Linked DNA regions of Homo sapiens: regions 1, 3, 4 and 5 are each linked to region 2. The links come from fine-mapping of genetic effects on gene expression. A gene starts in region 2. Each other region holds a variant in brackets. All regions are shown on one strand. Distances are from middle to middle. Region 1 has its middle 18 kb from the start of AKR1B10. Region 2 holds the start of AKR1B1 (aldo-keto reductase family 1 member B). Region 3 has its middle 42 kb from the start of AKR1B15. Region 4 has its middle 35 kb from the start of AKR1B15. Region 5 has its middle 45 kb from the start of BPGM.

Region 1 (5,105 bases), 51 kb after region 2:
CAACGTGATAGTATTAAGAGGTGGAGCCTTTTGAGAAGTGATTAAGTTATGAGGACTCCACCTTCATGAATGGGATTAGTGCCCTTTTAAAAGAGGTTCAAGCAAGCTCCCTTGCCCCTTTCTGCCATCTGAAGACACAGCAAGAAGGCACCATCTTTGAAATGGAAAGCAAGCCCTCACTAGATGCTGAATCTGCAGGGGTCTTGATCTTGGACTTTCCAGCCTCCAGAATTGTAAGAATACATTTCTGTTCCTTATAAATTATCTAGTCTGAAGTATTTTATTATAGCAGCCCTCACAGACGAAAACAGATTCATGTTCCTTATCACCCCTGGCTTGTCCCAAGCTTTTAACCTTTATTCTATACCTAAACAATTGTCAGTGAATAAATCACAGCAATTTTTGGAACAGTGTTTCCCTGGGCCATCCTGAGCCTGGCCAATCCATCTTCCCTCTGGAAGTTGCAGCCGAGCATTTCTAGGGGCATCCTGAGACTTCTGTCATAGTCCTGCTCAGCATCTGGTGTTCCAGCAATGGGAAGAATTGGGCCTGGCTGCGTGTAAATGTTCCTCCTAGGAGGGCATTTATTTTCAGTAACAAAGACATCCCCAGTGACAAGGTTCTACTTCAATAAGTCTTGGGGCCATCCAAGGAGGTTTGGCTCCAAGTCAGCTCCTGCCCAAAGGATCACACTGTCTTCATTTTGAAGAACTGATGAACCACTCTGGTGCATCACTTGGAGACAGGCACTGGCAGAGGAAGAGGAAGATGTTCTTAAATATCATGTGCTATGCTCACCTGTGAACAAGTCTTTGAACATGCTGTGCTAGGTCTGACCCATAAGATGAATGCTATACAAGTCAGAAGTGATTAGGAGAGCCATCAAGATGCCATACTGAAATTTAGACACAGGCTGTGTCCATCAAGAAGCACAGGTTTTATTAAAAAGGACAAGGTGTATCTACCTCAAGTATTTTTGCTTTTGAAGAATGACCACTTATATGGCTTGCCAACATCTTCCTGGTTTCCTTCTGTAAGGCCTTTAAAGGTCATCTGGAAAAGTACCTGTGGTCTCTCTCATTTTCACCCATTCTTGCCGCAGGAACTGTATCTGTTCATTTACTAATTAATTCTTTACTCATCAAATAATACTATCTTCACAAAAACTGGTGAGAGAATGTAACTGTGCCTGGTTCCTGCTCTTAGGAAGCTTCCAGACTCAAGGAAGAGGATAAACACTTATATAATGTATAATGGTACAGGTGGTCTGAGTAAAATGCCAAGAAAGCACAAAGGATTTAGTGATTAACTCCCGGATTCTACCTGCAGGGGTTGAGAAGGACTGTATTAGTCTGTTCTCACACTGCTATGAAGAAATACTTGAGACTGGGTAATTTATAAAGGAAAGAGGTTTAATTGACTCACAGTTCTGCATTGCTGGGGAGGCCTCAGGAAACTTACAATCATGATGGAAGATTGAAAGCAAAGGAGAAGCAAGCACCTTCTTCACAGGGCAGCAGGAAGGAGTGAGTGCAAGCAGGGAAAGTGCCAGATGCTTATAAAACCATTAGTTCTCCTGAGAACTCACTCATGATCAAGAGAGCAGCATGGGGGAACCACCCCCCATGATCCTATTACCTCCACTTGGTCCTGCCCTTGACATGTGGGGATTATGGGGATTACAATTCAAGATGAGATTTTGGGTGGGGATACAGCCCAACCACATCAAGGACTTCACAGGGGAAGGTAGACCTGGATAGATGAGAGGACCTTGTCAGGCAGAGAAGGCAAAAACAGTTACAGAGACCTCACCAATGGTAGGACTGACCCTGTTCATGGCCCAGGCAGTCTCTAACCTCAAACCAACAGCAATGGTGTGAGCACACATGTGACGTGTGGTGGACAATAACAATGGCTGCCTCCTCTTCCTCACACCTCTTGCTTTTAGGCATTTTCTATCCTTAGCAGGCCAAAGTGACCCTTCCTGGAGAACATAGGAAGCAGAC[A/G]ATTTTGGGTTCATTCATTCCACCGGGAACTGCACTTATTATATAATTACATGTCCCTGGCCCTCTGGGGGAAACAAGGAAGCATTAGGGACTGTCCTTGTGCAAGAAGAACTTATAGTCTTAGTAGGAACAGCACAATACCAAGGCAAAGTTGAAAGTGTGAGTCACAGAAACAAAGGCCACAGCTTCTGTTCACTATGGGTATGTGAGGCCTTCCATATTTTATGAGATACAATACTGAACCTCATAAGCCCAAAAAATAGCTCTCTAAACTTTTCTCTAATTTTCTCTAGGAAATTAAGCTCAACTTATTTATAAAAATGTGCTCACACTGACTAAAGATTGTTAGACTCTGAAATTCAATGATCATAGTTATGATGCTGATGGCAATGTGTACTAGTGATGAGTAACCAACCATCCCTAATGCCCTATCAATAATTCAATGTCAATAGCATCAGTTGTTTTCTATTTCTATATATACCCAAGAACGTACCATCACCATCACAGCTATAGTTTTATGACACTATACATTTCAACTTATTTTTTATTTGAAATATTGATTGTCTATCCTAGGTCCAGCACTTTTTCAGGTGGGAAAATTCAAAAGAAAATGACAGGAAGAGGAAAATACCCTTGGGATGGGACATACTTAGTATCATCTCCCCATATACTCTACCTCAGAATGCAGACGTCTCTGTAATTGGAATAACAGAACCTCTTCCCCCTCTCTACCAATTAATTCACCTTCTCTACCAATTCGCTCTCAAGATTTCAGTTCAAGTTCCAAGCTTTGAAATGCAAATGTCCTAGGGAGGTAGCTGTTGGGTCTGGCTCATCAGGGACTCATGGATCATTTAGCTCCAAATGAATAAGTTTTCAATGGGCTTAATTAAAGAAGGGAGCAGAGAACCCCCCTCATGGGGACTGGGTCTGGGCTTGGGAGACCTGAAACAGCAAGTTGGGTACTGGAGCGAGGAAGGACTGGGGGAAGCTGTAGGTTGAGGCAGGCCCTGTGAATATAATGAGCGTATATATATATATTGGAGATGGAGCCTCGCTCTGTCACCCAGGTTGGAGTGCAGTGGTGCAATCTCGGCTCCCTGCAACCTCCGCCTCCGGGGTTCAAGTGATTCTCCTGCCACAGCCTCCTGAGTAGCTGGGATTACAGGCATGTGCTACCATGCCCAGCTAATTTTTTAGTAGAGACGGCATTTCCCCATGTTGGCCAGGCTGGTCTCTACCTCCTGACCCGAGGTGATCCACCTGCCTCGGCCTCCCAAAGTGCTGGGATTATAGGCGTGAGCCACCGCACCTGGCCATGAGTTTATATTATAATTGCTTCTTAGCACAGAGGAAACAAGAGAGTGCCTAGTATGCGTGAACAAGGATGCAGAGAAAAAGGGAGAGGGCTAGAGTGAGAGCAACAGAGAGACAGAGGAGCTGGAGAATGTACTTATTTTAGAGATACCTCCAGGGCTAGATCTAGGGCAGGCCCTGGTATCAGTTCCTCCCCTTCTCCTCCTGCTTGTGTGTCCCTAAGGAAATTCACGAGAAATTCACACAGTGAATTTCTTCCTGTCCTATGCTCTGTTTTCTTTCACCTGTAAAAAAGGGAGTGGGAAAGTAAGGTAGAGAATAAAGGCAGGGCCAGAGGGAATGAGGGAAAAAAAGCCTAGGGAGGCGTCAGCAGGCCTTGGCCTCTGTTATCTGTTTCCTGAGAGCACAGAATGTCTCATTCCTATGGGTGCTCATTCCGTTCTCTGTGGCCTTTATAAAGGCTGTGCAGTTTTTCAGGTCAGTGCCGTAGATTCCTACATCATTATCACAAGCTCCCACAGTGATGGCTGTTCTTCCCCAAGGGCGTCTCATGTGGCCCTGGGCCCAGAGCTACCTTCAAAAACCCATCTGCGGGGCCTGGGAAGCCTTCTCTTCTCTTACCAAAGCAACTCTGAGACTACTACTCAAAATGTCTTATTCTGCAGAAAGACAAATATCCTTCAAATATTTGTCCCTCAAATATCCCTCAAATATTCTGCAGAAAGACAACTATCCCTCAGGGGCTTTGAGCACCAAGGAAGAGCCTGGCTTCTCAGCCTTGGAACATGAGAGCACAGCTTCTTTGCTGACCTTGGTGTGTGTTTATCACAGGTGACACATAAAGCTTTCTTTCAGACCCAGGACATAGGCACACAGCTTCTCGGTTAGCCTCCCAAGTTTCTGAAGCCCTGATTGTGGGTGTGGGGACTTTGTGCAAGCCAGGGTTATGTTCTTGGAGGGGGTAGTGTTGAAGCCCTGTTTTTCAGACCCTGGACATCTGCACGTAACTGCTCCACTGGCCTAGGGGCATGTCAGGTGCTTGGTGGGTTGAGGACCTGTTCTCCTTGGGGGAGAACACATAGTTATTTGGCTGGCACAAGAGCAGGTTCATCCTGGGTGAGACTGCTAGGTTATTCTTCCAGCTGTATTGGAGATAGCATGGGTTTGTTTCACTGTTGTGCAGGACAAGAGTCATAGCCAATCCTGGGACCAGCCTCTGTACAGTTGGGTACCATGTGGGTTTGGTGGAATGAAGATAGAGCCCCAGTGCTAGAGAGGCACAATGACTATGGCCCCAGAGCAGGGCACACTCCGGCAGTAGGTCTGTTCTCAGGATGGCTCCATGGCTCAGTGGCGTAAGGCGGAGTGCACACCTTATGCACCTCACCTGGAGTGACACAGCTGAGTGAATTCTCAGCAGCTTTCCAAACTGGACTCAGCGCTTACCAGGATGTGGGATTCTCCCATAGTAAGGACTGGAGGTGTTTGCAGTGGCAAGGGGTGACAGGGGGTTCTTCTGTTTACCTTTTTCCCCTAAGAAGTAGTCCTCTTATCTCTGGGCCAGTCCGATCCAGGTGGGTGAGATGGGGCTGCGGAGGCCATGTGCCTCCATCCTGTCCTCCTGAGCCTCCAACCACCTCAGAAGCATCTCCACTCCCCTGCTTCACTCCATCGCTCTCCTTTTGGCACTCCAGTCAAATTTCAGCTGTATATTTATTGCCTTGGTCCTTTCTTGTAGGGAAGATAAGGGTCAGGCATCTCTAGTCAGCCATCTTGCTAATG
Region 2 (5,105 bases):
TGCAGGGCCTCCTCCAGCTGTCACAAAGACAGGCAAAGGATCACATCTTCTGTCGAGCATCTGTGAAAGAATACATACACACATACAAGGGAAAGGTTTTTTTGTTTGGTTGTTTTTTTAGATGGAGTCTTGCTCCATCGCCCAGGCTGGAGTGCAGTGGCGGGACCTCGGCTCACTGCAACCTCCACATCTGGGGTTCAAGCGATTTTCCTGCCTCAGCCTCCCAAGTAGCTGGGACTACAGGTGCGTGCCACGATGCCGGGCTAATTTTTTGTATTTTTAGTAGAGACGGGGTTTCACCATGTTAGCCAGGACGGTCTCTATCTTCTGACCTCATGATCTGCCCGCCTCTGCCTCCCAAAGTGCTGGGGTTACAGGTGTGAGCCACCGCGCCCGGCCCCAGGGAAAGGTTTTAAGTCATTAAAAAAAAAAAGGAAGTTGATTCCAAGTCCATCCTTATACCATTACTTTGACCCACCATTCCCCGCTGCCCCCACCGTACAATTCTACACCAACCTGATCTCCTCATCCACAGGAATACAAGTGGGCGTTTTCACCATACAGCTATCTCTAAAGTCGTTTTACTTCTTCATATGAATTCAACACATAACTTTTGGATACCTACTCCTATATTTGCCAGGCACTGTGAGAAGTGCTAGAAATAGTAATGAATGAAGCAGACATTATCCAATTTCTCAATGAACTCTGTCTACTGGAATGCATAACCTAAATGTACAGATGTTATGATGTGATGTTATCTTAAACAAATACATAGCTTTTTGGGGCATTGAGTGCTCAAGTGAATAATCTGAAACCCTCTTTCATAAACTTTTACTCCTCAGCCTGGACAACATAGGGAAACCTGTCTCTACAAAAAATTAAAAACAAACTACCCGAGTGTGGTGGCACACACCTGTGGTCCCAGCTACTTGGGAGGCTGAGGTATGAGGACCACTTGAGCCCAAGAGGTTAAGGCTACAGTGAATCATGATCATGCCACTGCACTCCAGCCTGGGTGACACTGAGCCCCTGTCTCAAAAAAAAAAAAATAAACTTTTACTCCTTATTTACCCTAGAGTAGTGATTTTCAAATGATGGGTCACAAAACTAGCTTCTGGAGGTATGACAATAATTTTTGGAAAAATGGAATAGAAAAAAATATTGAAATGCAGCCTACATAGGTTAAGTACTGTTAAGTAATTTTTATTCCAGTTACATGTATATATCTGTGCGTTGCATCATGCTTAGAAAGTATTTGCTATTGCCAAGAAAGCATCCTTCTGCATCCATTCCAAGAGCATAACATGCAACAGATGGAAATTAGCTTGGTGTCATGGTTGTAATTCAATTACAACCTTAGAGACACCACTGGAGTTTTTGGAGGAAACAAATCACGTACCCTGATCATTCTGGCCAAGAAACACTCTCCCTGATGCAAATGACCTTTTTCTTACCTTATATTTACTAATTTTCAACAGCAGGTTTTAGGGTACATGTAAACTCTTCTGTCCTATTTCAAACATCTCACAGTTCACTCAGTTCTTTCTGTTGTTTTCTTCCCTTGTCTGTGTGTAAATATCCAACGCCCAGGCCCATATTCAAATTTTAAGAGAAAAACCTGGGACGTGGGCCTGCCAGATGGTTCACACCTGTAGCTTTGGGAGGCGAGGTGGGAGGAGCGCTTTGAGCCCAGGAATTGGAGATCACCCTAAGCAACAAGCGGAGACTGTCTCTGCGGGGAAGAAAAAAGATTAGCCAGGTGTGGTGGTGAGCGCCTGTAGTCCCAGCTACCCGCAGTGCTGAGGCAGGAGGATCACTTGAGCCCAGGAGTTCCAGGCTGCAATGAACCATGATTGTGCCACTGCACCCCAGCTTGGGCAACGAGACCCTGTCACAAACAAACAAGCAAACAACAAAAACAGAAACTGAGAAACCCAGGTTATGGCTGTGGAATATAATATGCAATACTTAGAAGGTTAAAAATTCTAGGTTTTGCCTCAGCTCCCATACCACCACCTTTGTTGCTCAATTTTCAGATAATCAGGCTCAGGCTATTATTTTTGGTTTTTCATATCATATTATCATTTTTCATATCCTATGATGTTTCATGTCCTATTGTCATTCTCATCCGGCTAGGCACTTCTCGGGGACGCTGTGTGGTGTTGAGGTTTTACAGGGAAAATGCTAACCTTGGCGCCTCCTGAATTATCAACTAGCTACGGGGTGCCCAGATTTTTCTCCCGAGTTCCAGACCCAGGGCACCCCGAGGCGGCGCCTGGCCGAGGAGCTCCGCACTGCGCCTTGTTAACAGCTGGGTCCGGGCAAACTCGCGCCACCTAATTCTCTGCCCTCTACCGGCTTGAGATGCTTATTCCTCAGGGAGGGCAAGAATCGAAACGATTGAGACCAACTATTTACAAGTGAGGCAACCGGGCTACAGGTGCCTCGAGGGAAAGGAGGCTGGGTCTGCGCTCCCACACCTTGCCGACGGCTCCACGTCCCTGTCTGCGCCCGAGGTCCACCGGTCTGTGAAGCCCACTTTCCCCGCCTCCCTCTCGCGTTGTGCCGCTTGGGGCGCCCGCTAGGACCCAAAATGCGGACTGGTGGGCCGCCCATCAAGGGTTGCCCGCGGTAGGGCGGGGGCTCCCGTGAGCTGCTCCCAAACCCCACTCGCAGGATGCTGCCCTGACGCCCAGGGCCAACCCGGGGAGCCAAGGCCCCCGGTCTCTGCAAGGCCGACCCCAGCCCGCTGGGGACCCTGCAAGCCCGCGCGTGGCTCCCAGCACGCCGGGCGTCCGCGGGGCGAGCTGCTCAGGGTCACTCGGGGTCCCTCGCCAATACAGGCCGCGCGGAGAGTGTGAGGCGAGCCCCGGGCCCGCGCCCCCACGAGCACCTACCTTCCAGGTACCCAACCCCAGGATGGGCATCTTGGCGCCGTTGTTGAGCAGGAGACGGCTTGCCATGGCTGCTGCGCTCCCCAGACCCCCGCCCAGTACGGTGCGGCCTTGGCCGCGGCGCGTACCTTTAAATAGCCCGTGAGGTCGGCAGAAAGGGCGCCTGCGGTTGGCGCGCCGCTGCGCGAAGGAGCCTTCTGATTGGTTGCGCTGGGGGTGCCGCGGCGGCCTTCCCCAAGGGTCGGCGGGGATGCTTCTTCCGCCTGGTCCTAGTGGCAGCGGATTCTTTCCGCCCCCAACGCTCGCCCGCGCCCCGCGTGGCAGAAAGGAGTTCCTCAGCTGCTGTATCTGGTGGGAAAGCGAATGCTTTAGCGAAAATAACAGGCATCCCATAAATACATAGACTAGAAATAAGTTTTGGTTTCATTAAGAGCCCAGAAGAATGCCTTTGTTGTCCAACCCCAGTTTGATGCTCTTTGGGAATCTGACGAATACCTTGTCCTTAATCTATGTGAATCATACTGACTACACATATAGTTTACCGCACTTTGTTCTTAGACAAAGGTGCATGCCAGAAAAATGGCTTGCAATCCTTTTGCAAAGCACCTTCACAAAATATGGGTTTGCCCAGACTTTTTGTAGCCTTCTAGATCTCTCTTTGCACCCCACTCTAGGTGTTAGCTGTGTCTGTGCATACTAGGTGTGGTTCAGCAAGCCTTCCACCAAAAGCCAGCATCCTTTGATGTTCTTGAGGTTAGAAAGCCTTGATGGGCTTGATCCAGAACTCTCAGAAGAATTTGGAAAGTAAGGCTGTCCATTCAGAATCAGTAAGACAAATTTCATCAGTCTTTGGAAAGTGAGACTCTATCAAAGCAGTAAGTTCCAGTACAGTAACTTATCAAAACTCTCTAGAGGAAGAAAAGTGAACAGACAGAAAACCACAGAAGAAAAAGTTGACTCTAATATTGTAGCTTCCAGTATTTCAAATTAGAAGGTACAAAATAGTAAATTGATCACCCTAATTGGCAGGTAGAAACACACATTTTTCCAAGATAGCCTAAGAAAAGTCACTTGAAGATCCTTGAAGACAATTTTGGTTTCTTTCCAACAACCTCTCTTCATGATACTCTACCTCACCCCAACTGCTCTTTCTGCTCCATCACCCTCCGATCTTTCCCCTAATTATGCAAGATTGGGAACTCCATCTGCCTGGTAGTGACTCAAGCACCAGGTCTCTCTAAACTCCATGCCGGTGATTTTCCATTTGGTGCTTTCTTTAAAAGTGCTCCCTCCTGGAAAAATTTATACAGAACAGACTAGCCCAGATATTTTTCCATGTAACTTTTGTAAAAATTGTTGCTATTGGGCAAATTCATTTGTCCCCAAGTAATAGAATTTGAACTTGAGCCTAAAGCTGGGAACTTGCTTTGTGTAAAACAGCAAGTTCCTTCCTCCATGAGAGTCCTCTTGACTTGGAGGTTGCTCTGCCAATTGAACCTCCTGGGTCCAAATCCAAAGAGCTAATCTCTTGTGAAAATGATACACCTTGAGTGGCCAGGTTGGTACACACAGAAGGGTCGTCTGTTAGGGACATGGACTCAATATCAGAGGCTTTGTTGTTGGTTTGATAATAATTGAGTATACAGCTTGATTGCATGAAGTTATAACTGTGTCTAAAGCTGGAGTGATACCTGTAGTCTCAGCTTCTCAGGAGGCTGAGGTGGGATGACTGCTTGAGCCCAGGAGTTAGAGACCAGCCTGGACAACATAGCAAGACCCTGTCTGTAAAATAAATAAATAAACCCAGAATATTTTGGCTGGGCCATGCAGACATGAAAAGTTGTATCAGTGGAATTTCTATAGCAACAATAGCACTCTAGTTGGGACATGCTATTGTGATAGCCCCCTAACATCCCCCATTGCCTCTGTAATCTTTGTAAAATGTACACATACCAAAATTTTTGATCTCAAGATTTTTGATCTCCCATCTTTTGATAAGTATACATATCAAAATTTTGTTTGAAAAAGGGAAAAAAACCTTCAATGGAATCCTCCTGAGAAACACTCTAGTAATTGGAATCTTAACATGCTCTGAACCAGTAATCTCCCATCATGGGAATTTTTCCTAAGGAAATAATTTAAAAGGAAAACACACACACACACACACACACACACACACACACACACACACACACACACTAGGTATAGGGC
Region 3 (5,105 bases), 130 kb after region 2:
AGACACTAACCCCAAATGAGAGAAGTGCTGCCATAACTGCAGCGCAAGAGTTTGGCAATCTCTGGTTTCTCAGTCAGGTCAATGATAGGATGACAACAGAGGAAAGAGAACAATTCCCCACAGGCCACCAGGCAGTTCCCAGTGTAGACCCTCATTGGGATGCAGAATAAGAACATGGAGAATGTTGCCACAGACATTTGCTAACTTGCGTGCTAGAAGGATTAAGGAAAACTAGGAAGAGGCCTGTGAATTATTCAATGAGGTCCACTATAACACAGGAAAAGGAAGAAAATCCTACTGCCTTTCTGGAGAGACTATCGGAGGCACTGAGGAAGCATACCTCTCTGTCACCTGACTCTATTGAAGGCCAACTAATCTTAAAGGATAAGTTTATCACTCAGTCAGCTGCAGACATTAGAAAAGACTTCAAAAGTCTGCCTTAGGCCCAGAGCAAAACTAAGAAACCCTATTGAACTTGGCAACCTCGGTTTTTTATAATAGAGATCAGGAGGAGCAGGCAGAACTGGACAAACAGGATAAGAAAAAGGCCACCACTTTAGTCATGGCCCTCAGGCAAGCAGACCTTGGAGGCTCTGGAACAGGGAAAGGCTGGGCAAATTGAATGCTTAATGGGGCTTGCTTCCAGTGAGGCTTACAATTACACTTTAAATAAGATTGTCTGAATAGAAATAAGCCATCCCCTTGTCCATGTCTGAATAGAAATAAGCCACCCCCTTGTCCATGCCCCTTATATCTAGGGAGTCACTGGAAGGCTCACTGCCCCAGGGGATGAAGATCCTCTGAATCAGAAGCCACTAACCAGATGATCCAGCAGCAGGACGACTGAGGGTGGCTGGGGCAAGTGCCAGCCCATGACATCACTCTCATAGAGACCCGGGTATGCTTGATCATTGAAGGCCAGGAGGTTAACTGTCCCCTGGACACTGGCACAGCCTTCTCAGTCTTACTCTTCTGTCCTGGACAACTGTCCTCCAGTTCTGTCACTGTCCGAGGGGTCCTAGGACAGGCAGTCACTAGATACTTCTCCCAGCCACTAGGCTGTGACTGGGGAACTTTACTCTTTTCACATGGCTTTCTAATTATGCCTGAAAGCCCCATTCCTTTGTTAGGGAGAGACATCCTAGCAAAAGTAGGGGCCATTATACACTAGAATTAGGAGAAGAAAAAAGGGTGAACATATATACAGACTCTGAGTATGCTTACCTAGTCCTCCATGCCCACGCAGTAATATGGAGAGAAAGGGAATTCCTAACTTCCAAGGGAACACCTATCAAACATCAGGAAGCCATTAGGAGATTATTATTGGCTGTACAGAAACCTAAAGAGGTGGCAGTCTTTCACTGCTGGGGTCATCAGAAAGGAAAGGAAAGGGAAATAGAAGGGAACTGCCAAGTGGATATTGAAGCCAAAAGAGCTGCAAGGTGGGACCCTCCATTAGAAATGCTTACAGAAGGACCCCTAGTATGGGGTAATCCCCTCCAGGAAACCAAGCCCCAGTACTCAGCAGAAGAAATAGAAGGGGGAACCTCACAAGGACATAGTTTCCTCCCCTCAGGATGTCTAGCCACTGAAGAAGGAAAAATACTTTTGCCTGCAGCTAACCAATGTGAATTACTTAAAACCCTTCACCAGACCTTTCACTTAGGCATTGATAGCACCCATCAGATGGCCATATCATTATTTACTGGACCAGGCCTTTTCAAAACTATCAAGCAGATAGTCAGGGCCTGTGAAATGTGCCAAAGAAACAATCCCCTGCCTTATCGCCAAGCTCCTTCAGGAGAACAAAGAACAGGCCATTACCCAGGAGAAGACTGGCAACTAAGTTTTACCCACATGCCCAAATCTCAGAGATTTCAGTATCTACTAGTCTGGGTAGATTCTTTCACTGGTTGGGCGGACGCCTTCCCTTGTAGGACAGAAAAGTCCCAAGAGGTAATAAAGGCACTAATTCATGAAATAATTCCTAGATTTGGACTTCCCCGAGGCTTACAGAGTGACAATGGCCCTGCTTTCAAGGCTGCAGTAACCCAGGGACTATCCCAGGTGTTAGGCATACAATATCACTTACACTGCCCCTGGAGGCCACAATCCTCAGGAAAAGTCAAGAAAATGAACGAAACACTCAAACAACATCTAAAAAAGCTAACCCAAGAAACCCACCTTGCATGGCCTGCTCTGTTGCCTATAGCCTTACTAAGAATCCTAAACTCTCCCCAAAAAGTGGGACTTAGCCATATGAGATGCTGTATGGACCTTCCTAACCAATAACTTGTGCTCGACTGAGAGATGGCCAACTTAGTTGCAGGCATCACCTCCTTAGACAAATATCAACAAGTTCTTAAAACATTACAAGGAGCCTGTCCCTGAGAGGAGGGAAAGGAACTATTCTACCCTGGTGACATGGTATTAGTCAAGTCCCTTCCTGCTAATTCCCTGTCCCTAGACACATCCTGGGAAGGACACTACCCTTCATTTTATGTACCTCAACCATGGTTAAAGTGGCTGGAGTGGAGTCTTGGATACATCACACTTGAGTCAAACTCTGGATACTGTCAAAAGAACCCGAAAAT[C/T]CAGGAGACAACACTAGCTATTCCTGTGAACCTCTAGAGGATCTGTGCCTGCTCTTCAAGTGACAACTGTGAGGAAAGTAACTGAATCATAGATCCCCATGGCCCTCCCTTTTCATATTTTTCTCTTTACTGTTCTCTTATCCCCTTTTACTCTCACTGCACCTCCTCCATGCCACTGTACTACCAGTAGCTCCCCTCACCAAGAGCTTCTGCGGAGAATGTGGCTTCCTGGAAATATCAATGCCCCATAGTATAGGAGTTTTTCTAAAGGAAACCCCACTTTCACGGCCGACACCCATATGCCCCTGCACTTCAGGCCTACATTTCAATCCCTGTACCTTTAACCTCCTTGTTAAGTTTGTCTCTTCCAGAATCAAAGCTGTAAAACTACAAATGGTTCTTCAAATGGAGCACCAGATGCAGTGCATGACTAAGATCTACCGTGGACCCCTGGACTGGCCAGCTAGCCCATGCTCCGATGTTAATGACATTGAAGGCACCCCTCCCGAGGAAATCTCAACTGCACAACCCCTGCTACACCCCAATTCAGCAGGAAGCAGTTAGAGCGGTCGTCAGCCAACCTCCCCAACAGCACTTGGGTTTTCCTGTTGAGAGTGGGGACTGAGAGACAGGACTAGCTGGATTTTCTAGGCCGACTAAGAATTCCTAAGCCTAGCTGGGGAAGGTGATTGCACCCACCTTTAAACACTGGGCTTGTAACTCAGCTCACACCCAACAAATCAGGTAGTAAAAAGGGCTCACTAAAATACAAATTAGGCTAAAAGCAGGAGATAAAGAAATAGTCAAATCATATATCACCTGAGACCACAGTGGGAGGGACAATGATCGGGGTATAAACCCAGGCATTCGAGCAGGGAGTGGCAACCCGCTTTGGGTCCCCTCCCATTGTATGGGAGCTCTGTTTTCACTCTATTAAATCTTGCAACTGCACACTCTTCTGGTCCATGTTTGTTCTGGCTCAAGCTGAGCTTTTGCTCACTGTCCACCACTGCTGAATGCCACTGTCGCAGACCCTCCATTGACTTCCACCTCTCTGGGTCCAGCAGGGGGTCTGCTGCATTTCTGATCCAGTGAGGCACCCATTGCCGCTCCCATTCGGGCTAGAGGCTTGCCATTGTTCCTGTGTGGCTAAGTGTCTGGGTTCATCCTAATCAAGCCTAATACTAGTCACTGGGTTCCATGGTTCTCTTCCATGACCCACGGCTTCTAATAGAGCTATAACACTCACCACATGGCCCAAAGTTCCATTCCTTGGAATCTGTGAGACCAAGAACCCCAGGTCAGAGAACAAAAGGCTTGCTGCCATCTTGAGAGTGGCTGCCACCATCTTGGGAGCTCTAGGAACAAAGACCCACCCCATAACACTAGTGTGGCTGTAGCAAATTACCACAATCTTAAAACACCAGAAATTTATTCCTGCATAATTCTGGAGGCCAGTAATCCAAAATTTACGTGTCATCAGGGCTATACTCCCTCCGAAGTGTCCAGGAAAGAATCCTTCTTGCCTCTTCCTAGCATCTGGTGGTTGCTGGCAATTCTTGGGGTTCCTTGGCTTGTAGCTGCCTCCCTCTGATTTCTGCCTCTGCCTTCACATGACCTTCTTATGAGGACACAAGTCATTGGATTTATGATCCACCTTAATTCAGAATGCCCTCATCTTAATTTAACTAACTCCATCTTCAAAGACTCTATATTCAAATAAGGTCACAATCTGAGGTTCTGAGTGGACATGGACTTTGGGGGGACATGATTCCACCCAATATAGGGTCTGACACATTGTCCTGCTTGTAGTTGAATGCTCAATATTTATGAGTATATACTTAGGGACTTTTGTCTATTTGTTTGTTTGTTGAGACAAAATCTCATTCTATTGCCCAGGCTGGAGTGCAGTGGCATGATCTCGGCTCACTGCAACCTCAGCCTTCTGAGTTTAAGCCATTCTCCTGCCTCAGCCTCCTGAGTAGCTGTGATTACAGGTGTGTGCCACCATGCCCGGCTAATTTTTGTATTTTTAGTAGAGATTGGGTTTTGTCATGTTGGCCAGGCTGGTGCTTGTGCCCCAGGGCTTGTGGCACTTGTGCCCCACTCCCGACCTCCAGTGATCTGCCCACCTTAGCCTACCAAAATGCTGGGCTTATAGGCGTGAGCCACTGTACTCAGCCAACATTTTTTATCAGAACTTACTTTCTCATTCATTCATTACCTAAGTAGCTAAAACAGCATCTCTTGATATAATCTGATTCATATTTAGCCACTGCTCTTCTCAGTAGCCTGTTTGTTTCTGTACATATTCATTCTCCAGTCTCCCTGGATTCTCATTGTTTTATCCAAAGCAAAGCATTCTCAGTTGTGTCTGAGAGTGTTGGCAGCTTCCCCAGCACCATGACTTTGCATTTGTGCTCTCTGACATGGAAATTTGGACTCAAGCAGTTTAGTCCCACAATTGACATTTACTGACCTTGTGGAAGAAACAAATTGCCTGATCTGACT
Region 4 (5,105 bases), 130 kb after region 2:
GTTGCTATGTTGTCCAGGCTGGTCTCGAACTCCTGGTCTCAATGATCCTCCCACCTCTGCCTTCCAAAGTGCTGGAATCACAAGCATGGGCCACCTCACACAGCCAGTTATCTGATTATATTTTCAGCATTTATATCTCAAGTAATGAGAACTTTGCAGGCCTTGGGGTCCTCAATGTCACAACTGTAAGAAATACAGTGAATCCATCCTAAAATTTATTCACAATTTTGTCTCAATTGTTCAGAAATAAAGCCACCATCATCATCAACTAAACCAAAGCTGCCATTAAGGGGAGAGAATCTAAGATATACACTACAGGTGTGTGTTAAATAACTCTTATGATAATGTAGGGAATTTGCCTTATGAAGAGAAAAGAAGGGGAATAACCACAGAGGGGAAGATGGTAAGTAAGGTCAGTGTGGAAAAGGAAGGGAGCTTGTCCTGGGAAGTAGGGAGGCAAGGAGTGAAGCTCTTGTGTTTCAAGTATTCTCTCTACTCATTGTCTAAGAGAGGGCTGGAAAAATGGGTTGCAACTAGCATGGAGATTCTGGAATCACTGTGACCATCCTGCCGGGCTCAGGTAGTTCAGAGGGCTAGACTTGCCCTCTTGTATTTAAGTGAGATCTGGCAAATGCTGGGCAGATGATGCCAAACTATAACTGGGACCTAAAGGGATTTGGATCTCCCAGCCAGACCCCTTAATGCCTGACTGTCCAGGGCTGCTCCAGTCATTTCAACAACCTTGCAACAACTCTGCACTTTACATGATTACAAATTTGGACCCAGCCAGTCCTGGTGGTTCACACCTGTAATCCCAGCACTTTGGGAGGCCGAGGCAGGAGGATCGCTTGAGGCCAGGAATTCGAGACCAGCCTGGGCAACATAGTGAGACTGTTGCTATATGAAATATTAAATTAACAAATTTGCATTATTGTGAGATTTAACTACTTATTGCATTATTGTGAGATTTAACTGTACATTAGAGTTTAAAATGTACAGATGAGAGAGGCTTCTGTAGAAAATAGTTTTCAGTAAAATTTGAAAGACCCTGAAGAGTGAAGATTGTTGGAAATAACCTTTTTTTTTTTTTGCTTTAATGCGTGTGCATGACTATAGACATGTAAATTCTGAACATAAAAATATGCAAAAATTAACCAGCAGTGGTGGCTCACATCTATAATCCCAGCACTTTGGGAGGCCGAGGAGGGTGGATCACTTGAGGTCAGGAGTTTGAGACCAGCCTGGCCAACATGGTGAAACCCTGCCTCTAATAAAAATACAAAAATTAGCTGGGTGTGGTGGCACATGCCTCAGGAGGCTGAGGCATGAAAATCGCTTTATCCCAGGAGGCAGAAGTTGCAGTGAGCCGGGATTGTGCCATTGCACTCCTGCCTGGGCGACAGAGTGGGACTCCGTCTCAAAACAAAAACAAAAACAAACAAACTAATAGGAGATAAACAAACTTGAACAAAACCATTTGGCAATTTTCATATAATCAAAAGAGCTTATTCATATCAATAAGAAAATTCTAAGATGCCAAAAAGAAAGTTGGTACATAAAAATTGACCAGTACATGACATGAAAAATTGTACTGACTAGTAATAAGAATGCAAATTAAAATAAGTTTTTTTCACTATCAAACCAACAAAACTTAGAAATAAAAGGAAAATATATCTAGAAAGATATGAATATTAACAGGGTTTTTTTCTATATTGTATGGCAACAGGTTTTTTTTGTTATTCTTTTACATAATTTTCAAAATTTCCACAATACGAAATGCACTTTTACAATCAAGAGAGGCATTAAGGATTTAGAAAATAGCAGAGATTTAGCTCAATTAGTTATTTTATACATCCACTGGGAAAACCAAATGGAAGAGACACTTTTACTTGAAACTATTCTCATTTAACAAGCCTTTCAATTTTAGAAAATACATATTCTGAATGTACAATGCAGTGGAATTTGATTACATTTAATTTAAAACTCTACCTAGTTCATTTGTTTTTCCTCATTTGTTGTCAGCATTTTCCCAGAAATTTCATGAAAGTTTTGCACCCTTAAAATCTTATAGTGTTGCCTTCCAGCACTTTTGTTGGTTGAAAAATATCAACCCCCAGATAAGTAAGGGAGAGTTGGTGGAGACCACGAGGACCTTGAACGTTACTAAAAAAATTACACAAGAGAGGTGCTTGTGCCCCAGGGCTTTTGCCCTTGCTATTCTCATTGCCTGGGATCTTCTGCCCTCTGATATTAGAATAATTCTCTGACTTGTATTTTTAATTTCTTTGCTGATTTATCATCTTCTCAGGGAGGCCTTTCTT[C/T]ATCACCCTATTTAAAATTAACCCATCTCCTCTGATACTTCCTCTTGCCCTTCTGTGTTTTCTTCTTCTCCTTAGCATTTATCAATATGTTATGTATTTTAAATATTTACTGTTTGCTTGCTTACCCTGTTTCTACCCACTGGAATGTAAGCTCTATGGGAGAAGGGATTCTCAATAATATCTGTTGAATAAATGGACAGATGGAATGGATGGAACAATGGATGGATGAATGGATGGATGGAGGGAGGGTGGCATAGATGGATGGATGGAAACATGAAGGACGGATGGAAGGATGGATGAAAGGAAGGATGGATGGAAGGATGAATGGAAGGAAGGATGGGTAGAAGGATAGAGGGATTGGGGATAGATGGATGAAATGATGGATGGATAGAAGGGTGGTTGGAAGGATGGATAGATGGAGGGAGGGAGGCATGGATAAATGGATGGAAGCAGGGAAGGAAGGATGGATGGATGGATGGATGGATGGATGGATGGAAGGATAGTTGGAAGGATAGATGGATGGGAAGTGTTTTTACTCCAATTTTACTTTTTAACTCCAATTTCAGATTTAAAAAAAAACTGAAGCTAGATTTCTTAATTGTTACAACCCATAATGCCTACTCACATAATCTGAAGTAATTTCATGAACTCTACGGCTAGTCATAAATTGCAAAGACTGTATAACATCCTTGAACTGGAACTGAGATAATCATTTTGGAGGCAGGGATGATATGTGGAGAATGTCAATCTTTAATTCATGATTGAAGTTTTACTTCTGCTCTCATTGAAGTCTAATAGTGAGAGGTAAAATAGGAATTGAGGCACCACTAATATTCTCTCCTTTCAATTCTGTTTGTTCTACTCCATGGTAGAAAATGGTGCATTGCTCTTATTAGCAATTCCTTCCTAAGTGTGAGTTGAATATGGCTTGCATATAGTCCCAGGATCTGCTTTCTACTAGGACACAGCATTCAGAAGTCCTGAGAAGCAGTGAGCAGAGAACAGCCATGGTACTGCTATCCATGAACCAAGAGATGCTGACAGCTCAAGTGAAAAGCAGGGGTAAAGGCAGCCTATATGTCAGACTCCTGGGGTATAGTTAAAGGCTGTCTTGATTGGAAAAAAACTATACCCTAGTGCTTCAACCTTGGGATAATCGTGAAGACTAAAAAAAGATAATGGTTCCTCTATATTTACTGATAAGCAGAATTCACAACCTTGCTTTCTTCCTATAAATAGCAATATTCTCATTATTCTAGTTTTTATTTCTCCATTAGTGTCTGTATTAGTTTTCCTGGTGAGAGACAGGACTAGCTGGGTTTCCTAGGCTGACTAAGAATTCCTAAGCCTAGCTGGGGAAGGTGATTGCACCCACCTTTAAACACTGGGCTTGTAACTCAGCTCACACCCAACAAATCAGGTAGTAAAGAGGGCTCACTAAAATACAAATTAGGCTAAAAGCAGGAGGTAAAGAAATAGTCAAATCATATATCACCTGAGACCACAGTGGGAGGGACAATGATCGGGGTATAAACCCAGGCATTCGAGCAGGGAGTGGCAACCCACTTTGGGTCCCCTCCCATTGTATGGGAGCTCTGTTTTCACTCTATTAAATCTTGCAACTGCACACTCTTCTGGTCCATGTTTGTTCTGGCTCAAGCTGAGCTTTCGCTCACCGTCCACTGCTGAACGCCACTGTCGCAGACCCTCCATTGACTTCCACCTCTCTGGATCAGGCAGGGTGTCTGCTGCATTTCTGATCCAGTGAGGCGCCCATTGCCACTCCCATTTGGGCTAGAGCTCACCATTGTTCCTGCGTGGCTAAGTGCCCAGGTTTGTCCTAATCGAGCTGAACACCAGTCGCTGGGTTCCATGACTCTCTTCCATGACCCACGGCTTCTAATAGAGCTATAACACTCACCACATGGCCAAAGGTTCCACTCTTGGAATCTGTGAGACCAAGAATCCCAGGTCAGAGAACAAAAGGCTTGCTGCCATCTTGAGAGTGGCTGCCACCATCTTGGGAGTGGCTGCCACCATCTTGGGAGTTCTAAGAACAAAGACCCACCCGTAACATTTGGTGGCCTGTACAGGGATTCTCTAAAGCAGTGAATAATATTGGGCCACTTTCGCTCGCTGTTCTGTCCTATCCTTCCTTAGAATTGGAGGAAAATACCTGGCACCTGTCGGCCGGTTAAAAATGATTAGCATGGCTGCTGGACTAAAGACTCAGGTGTGAGGCTTCCTGGGAAAAGGCTTGCTAACAGCTCCCAACCCTTCTGGGTTGGGAGCATTGGTCTGCCTGGAACCAGCTTCCACTTTCACAATTTTCCTGGGGAAGCCAAGGGTCGACTAGAGGCAGAAAGCTGTCGTCCTGAACTCCCGGCATTGGCCAGTCAAGATCATGGCACAGTCAAAAGTCTCTACTCAAAAGTCATCCATGTGTGTGCCCCTACCTCTCCTTCTGACCCATACCTCCTGGGTCCCAACCATGACTTTCTTGAAAGCGTAGCCCCAAAATTCTCCTTACCTCTGAATCTACTTCCTCCGATCCCTGCCTCCTAGGTACTAATGCTTCAGACTTTCACTTCCTCTCCCAAGTATTAGAGCAAGTTGTATCTCCAAAGGGATCTAAGGAAGTTCTATGCTGCAACCTTAGGCATCTAGGCTATGAATCCAGGGAGTCTTGTCCCTGGTGTCCCTCCCAATTTAGGCATACAGCTCTTGACATGGGCAGTTATGTGTGACCCATTCCCCACCACCCTTGCTGGGGCCTTAGAACTC
Region 5 (5,105 bases), 140 kb after region 2:
TTGAGTCTCAGTAGGTCACATGCCCCCCTAGTCCACTGGATCTGCACCCAGCTCAGCACTAGGATTTGCCTAAGAATTGCAGTCCTTGTGGCCCAGACTGCCCCACAAGTTCACTTAGGGTCCCAGAGCACTCCAGCCCACAGTGGCGAGGCTTGCTGGAACTCAAGCTCTGATTGCTGGGCTGGGTGACTTCGCTTTGGCTAGGGCCAATCCAAATGCTCCGTCTGTGGGCAGACATCAGCTGAATACAGCCTGGATCTAATTTCCACTATGAGAGGGCCACTCTGAGTTCAATGCAAAGCCTCACAATTGCTGCACTCTCTCTCTCCCAAGAGACCAGATTCTTTGTACACAGCTGCTGCCGTGGGGTGGGGGAGGGGTGGCATCAATGCTTCAAGTCTGTCTTTCCTGCTCACGTCACTGTCTCTTTCAGTGATACGAATTTCAAATGAGGTAATGTGATTGCTCACTGATTTTTGGTTCTTGTGAGAGTATTTTTATTATTATTATTATTATACTTTAAGTTTTAGGGTACTTGTCTTGTGAAAGTATTTTTGCATGCAGTTAGTTGTTAAAACGTGGTGTTCCTGCTGTGGGGACGAATGGTGTAGGCTTCTATTCAGCCATCTTGCTCTGCCTCCCCCATATAAATAATTAATATACATTCAAGAAACATCAATGGATGCTGAAACCAGTGGGTAAACATTTGATGAGGAATAGGATATCTGTCTCATCTCAAAGTACCTCTTTACAAAATGCTTATTAATTACTAAAAGCAGGTACTTTACAACTGAGAGACTAGCAGATCTCACTTGTATTAGTTTTCTATTGCTGCATGACAAATTACCACAAACATAACAGCTTGAAACAACCCATTTATGGTCTTATAGTTCTGTAAGTTAGAAGTCCAGGCAGTCCCCCTGAGTTCTTTGCCTAGGGTCTCCCAAGGCTGCAATCAAGGTGTTGGCCAGGCTGGGCTCTTCTCTGGAGGCTTTGGGGAAGAATCCCTCTCCCAGAATTCAGTTCCCTGCTACAATTAGACCAAAGTCTCTATTTCCTTGCTGGCTGTCAGATGGTGGTTGTGTTCCATTCCTGGAGGCCAATCACACAGTTCTGTGCTGTGGGTCTTCTCCATCTCAACAAGGTAGAGCTTCTCTGGAGGTGAATCTCTGCCACATCTCGAATATTTTTGACTTCTGCCATCAGCTCTCAAAAACTCTCTGCTTTTAAAGGCTGGATTTATTTAGATTAGGCCTACTTCGGTAATTGTCCATTTGCAATATAACACCATCATGGGAGTAATATCATGAGCCAAGGTCATAGGGCCATCTTAAAATTCTGCCTACCATACAATCTTAATCAAGTGATCAATTTAATATTACTAGTAATAGGACAAATTGAAATTGTGTACCACTTGATAGTATGCAGTGTGAAGAATCCGGCTTCAAATCTGTGATATCTCTGCTAAAGACGTATAATTTGAATCTAAACACTAGGAAACATCAGACAAACCCACAATGAGATAAATCCCACAAAATTAGTGGTCTGTAGTGTTTAAAATAGTCAAAATTATGAAATCATAAAAACTGAGAAATGGTTCCAAATCAAATAATATTAAAAAGACATGATAAATGAAATATGTAATTTTAAAATGGATCATTTGGCTAAAATGGATATTACTGGGGCAACTGAAAAAAAATTAATGATGTCTGAAACAAAATGATAGTAATGTATTAGAATTAATTTCCTCATTTCAATGGTTTAAATATAGTAAGAGGTGTAAGTCTTCGTAAGAATTGCACACTAATGCATTTAAGGGTGATGGGGTATCATGTTGGTAAAATACTCTCAAATTACTAAGGAAAAAAAGTTCTTTGTACGATTTCTGCAATTTTTCCTGAAATTTTTTTCTGAAATTATCCAAAAGAGAAAAAAAGAATCATTAGTTAGTTAATAAAGAAAATAAAAAAGACAAACTAGATACAAAGCAGAATTGAAAAGAAATGATTTGGGGAAGAATCTTACATATTCTTTTTAAAATCCATTTTATTTTATGTTGAACATTAAAAAAAACACCAAACATAAGGGTCTGTCCCCTTTACCAAATCAGTTTGCAAAAATGGAAAAATTGTTAACTGGGAAGAAACGTCACTAAATCAATGTGAGTAATAAAACTGGTTTTGCTGGCCATGGTGGCTCACGCCTATAATCTTAGCACTTTGGGAGGCCAAGGAGGGAGGATCTCTTGAGCCCAGGAGTTTAAGAGCAGCCTGGGCAACATGGCAAAACCCTGTATCTACAAAAAAGACAAAAATGAGCTGGGCATGGTGGTGTCAGCCTGTAATCCCGGCTACCCCAGGGGGCTGAGGTGGGAGGGTCTCTTGAGCCCGGGAGGTGGAGATTGCAGTGAGGCATAACCATGCACTCCGGCCTGAGCCACAGAGCAAGACCCTGTCTCAAAACAGAAACAAAAACAAACTTGTCTGAGTAGTTCTCAGACAATCAGTGTATCAAAATGGCAAAGCAGAATTTCAGAAGGACAGAAAAACAGTATTTGTTTCTACAGTATATTAAGAAGGTGATAAATGTTTTTAAAAGTATACAGAAATGTCAAGAGTTTTGTCATGGTCCCAGGGTTACAGAAAGACAATGACCTTCCTTTATGTGGCAATAACAGGGGTTATAACAGTTTTTAAAAACATTTCATAAGCAGTGAATATTTACTGATCATTCATGTTTCTCCTGGAATTCAACGCTTAATCAATATACAGGGTCTAC[C/A]TTTTGGTTTCTGTAAAAACAAAAATCACCCAAGCTTAGGTTTTTTAATTGTCTTAGTAACATTATCAAACTCTAATCATCACCTGAGACACACATTTAAGGTTCTACTTTTTTTTTATAATAAACTGTAATGACTTCCACAGGTTGGTTCTCTGCAGTTTGGATTTCCACGTCCAGATATGGTCTGATCAAATGTTAAGTTTGCTGGCTGAGTTCTCGGCACCATGACTTTGCAGATGCACCTTGCTCACCCTGTCTTTAGATTTGGGATTTTGACTTTTGTTTGTACAAGATACATCGTTGTCACTCTCTCCCACCAAGGCCAGGGCTGTGGACTCTTGGAGGAGAGCAGGCTTGTGAGAATCAGAAACAGCCACATGTCCCCAGCTCATTCTTTCTCTTAAGAACCTCTTTTCCTGGTGCTAGTTATTGTAAAAAAAAAAAAAAAAAAAAAAAAAGTCCCAAAAAAGTTATTTTAAAAAAGTCCCACATCTCCCATGTATACTCTTCAGAAGAAACCACATGCCAAGTATTTTCTTAAAAGTACACAATCAGAAAATTAGTAAATTGGTAAAGTTAGAAACTACAACCCTTCCTAAAGTATTAATATTCCCACATCTGCCAAAAATAAAGTTCCCCCTCTTCTGCTTGCCTCTCAGATAATTTAACGTCAGAAGAGGCTTTTTCTGAACCCTATACTTTTTCTTGGCAACAATTTGGAGCTAGCCCTAAAGGCACTGGAACTCTTGAATCTGCTTCCTTAATTTCTGCTTCAGCTCTCAGAGGGAACAAGTGATCTTGGGAAAATACAACTTTCGGCTCCTTTTGTCTCCTCTGATTCCAACACTAAAGGGGCAGCTTCTGTCCGTTTAGCTTCACTTGATTTATTTATAAACAAACAGTTAATATTCTAAAGCAGAAAATCCTGCTGCAATTGGCGTGTCCTAATGTTTTGTAACTTAGTTCCGTTCTACCCACAAGCCGGAAACCAAGCATCCAGACAAGGACTTTAAACACTTGCTTCATCGTCATATTATCAGCTGCAATTTCACCCATTATGCATTCACTAGGTACAAAGCAGCACACTCATAGCGGCAAGCTCTACCACCTGAAAAACTAACAGCTTTGTCTCACTGGAGCCCTGCCCTTTTTCTGTGCAAGATGTGAGCTAGGGCTGGTAGAAAAGGTAACTCCAAGGCTAGCATGCAGCCGTAGGCTTCAGGCTGCAGGAGAAGGGATGTGGCTGATTTAGGAGGTTTAGCATGTGCCTGCCAGTCTAGAAGTGGAACCAAACGCATGTTCGCTGCTTGCGGAGTCTAATTAACAAGAGCGAGGTCTGGTAGAAAGAAAGTGACTTTATTAACCAACACTAGTAAAGGGGAAGCTGCTGGATTCCTCCTATCCAAAGGAACTGCTTTGTATCTAGCGGGGAAAGCAAGAGTTCAAAATGGGAAAACTTGGTAAGGAAGGCATGCAGGAATTGTGCTGATTCCAATGCCTGTGTGTCTTGCTCTGGTGGCTGTCTTGGGTCCCAGGCCACCTGGATCTCAGGCTGGCATCATCTTAACAATGGCTGGGTTGTTGACTAGTCACCTTGAAGTCATCTCTGGAATTCTGTAGCGGGGTCTCCAGACTTGGTCTGCCTAAAAATTAGCCCCATAATAATTATGTGCCTTTAGACACTAGCATGCAGTTAGATAAATGTGAAGGGACTATATTCGGTGAGAAAGAGGGACGTGGAGTCCATTTTAAGGCTAAGGAAAAAGGCTTCTGCAGTTTGCTTCAAGGTTATATGTTGAAATCCAAGAGAAAGGAAAAAAAACGTTTAAAATGCATTTTGAAGTTAAGTTGCCTAGTTACAGAATCATAGACTCGAGGCTGGTGGGGCCCAGAGGCACTGGAGGTCTTCTAGATCTTCAATATTACACACAGTCTGGCTAATGTTTAAACACCTCTAGGGATCAGGAATTCACTTCCCAACGAATATTTAGGAGAAAATCTTGTGTTTAGCAAGTCTTTCTTAACGTGCAGCTAAAATGCCATCTTCCTTTATCCTCCATTTGTAGATCTCAATTCTGCATGCAGTGACGGCACGGAACGGGTCTTTTCCTATTCCTAATGAAAGCCCTCCAAATATTTGATATAGGTCTTATATTCCTATGTTACACCCAATTGTTTTTGATGAATACCCCCAATTAATGGATACAGTTCAAATTCCACAAATTAAATTCATTTTTAAATTCAATTTATTAAAAATTGATTTATTAGTTTACTAATATTGATACATCAATTAAATTACATAACCTCAATTAATACAGTTCCAAATG

Evidence for each region. PIP is the estimated chance that this variant, and not a neighbour inherited with it, causes the effect.
Region 1: its variant is the best candidate, but not a certain one, in a credible set for the expression of AKR1B1 in whole blood (TOPMed, PIP 0.85).
Region 3: its variant is the best candidate, but not a certain one, in a credible set for the expression of AKR1B1 in whole blood (TOPMed, PIP 0.66).
Region 4: its variant is the best candidate, but not a certain one, in a credible set for the expression of AKR1B1 in whole blood (INTERVAL, PIP 0.88).
Region 5: its variant is the best candidate, but not a certain one, in a credible set for the expression of AKR1B1 in whole blood (INTERVAL, PIP 0.67).

Annotation. Positions count from the first base shown.
Region 1 is chr7:134,507,064-134,512,168 of GRCh38, forward strand. No RefSeq gene overlaps it. Among named protein-coding and RNA genes, the nearest start is that of AKR1B10, 18 kb to the right of the region's middle. The variant A/G (reference allele first, on the strand shown) is at 2,007.
Region 2 is chr7:134,456,100-134,461,204 of GRCh38, forward strand. AKR1B1 (aldo-keto reductase family 1 member B) reads right to left here and starts at 3,001. Exons shown (of 10, transcript NM_001628.4): 1 at 2,898-3,001. The coding sequence starts at 2,963. RefSeq lists a silencer at 2,611-2,800.
Region 3 is chr7:134,589,037-134,594,141 of GRCh38, forward strand. No RefSeq gene overlaps it. Among named protein-coding and RNA genes, the nearest start is that of AKR1B15, 42 kb to the left of the region's middle. The variant C/T (reference allele first, on the strand shown) is at 2,595.
Region 4 is chr7:134,581,804-134,586,908 of GRCh38, forward strand. No RefSeq gene overlaps it. Among named protein-coding and RNA genes, the nearest start is that of AKR1B15, 35 kb to the left of the region's middle. The variant C/T (reference allele first, on the strand shown) is at 2,322.
Region 5 is chr7:134,599,276-134,604,380 of GRCh38, forward strand. No RefSeq gene overlaps it. Among named protein-coding and RNA genes, the nearest start is that of BPGM, 45 kb to the right of the region's middle. The variant C/A (reference allele first, on the strand shown) is at 2,779.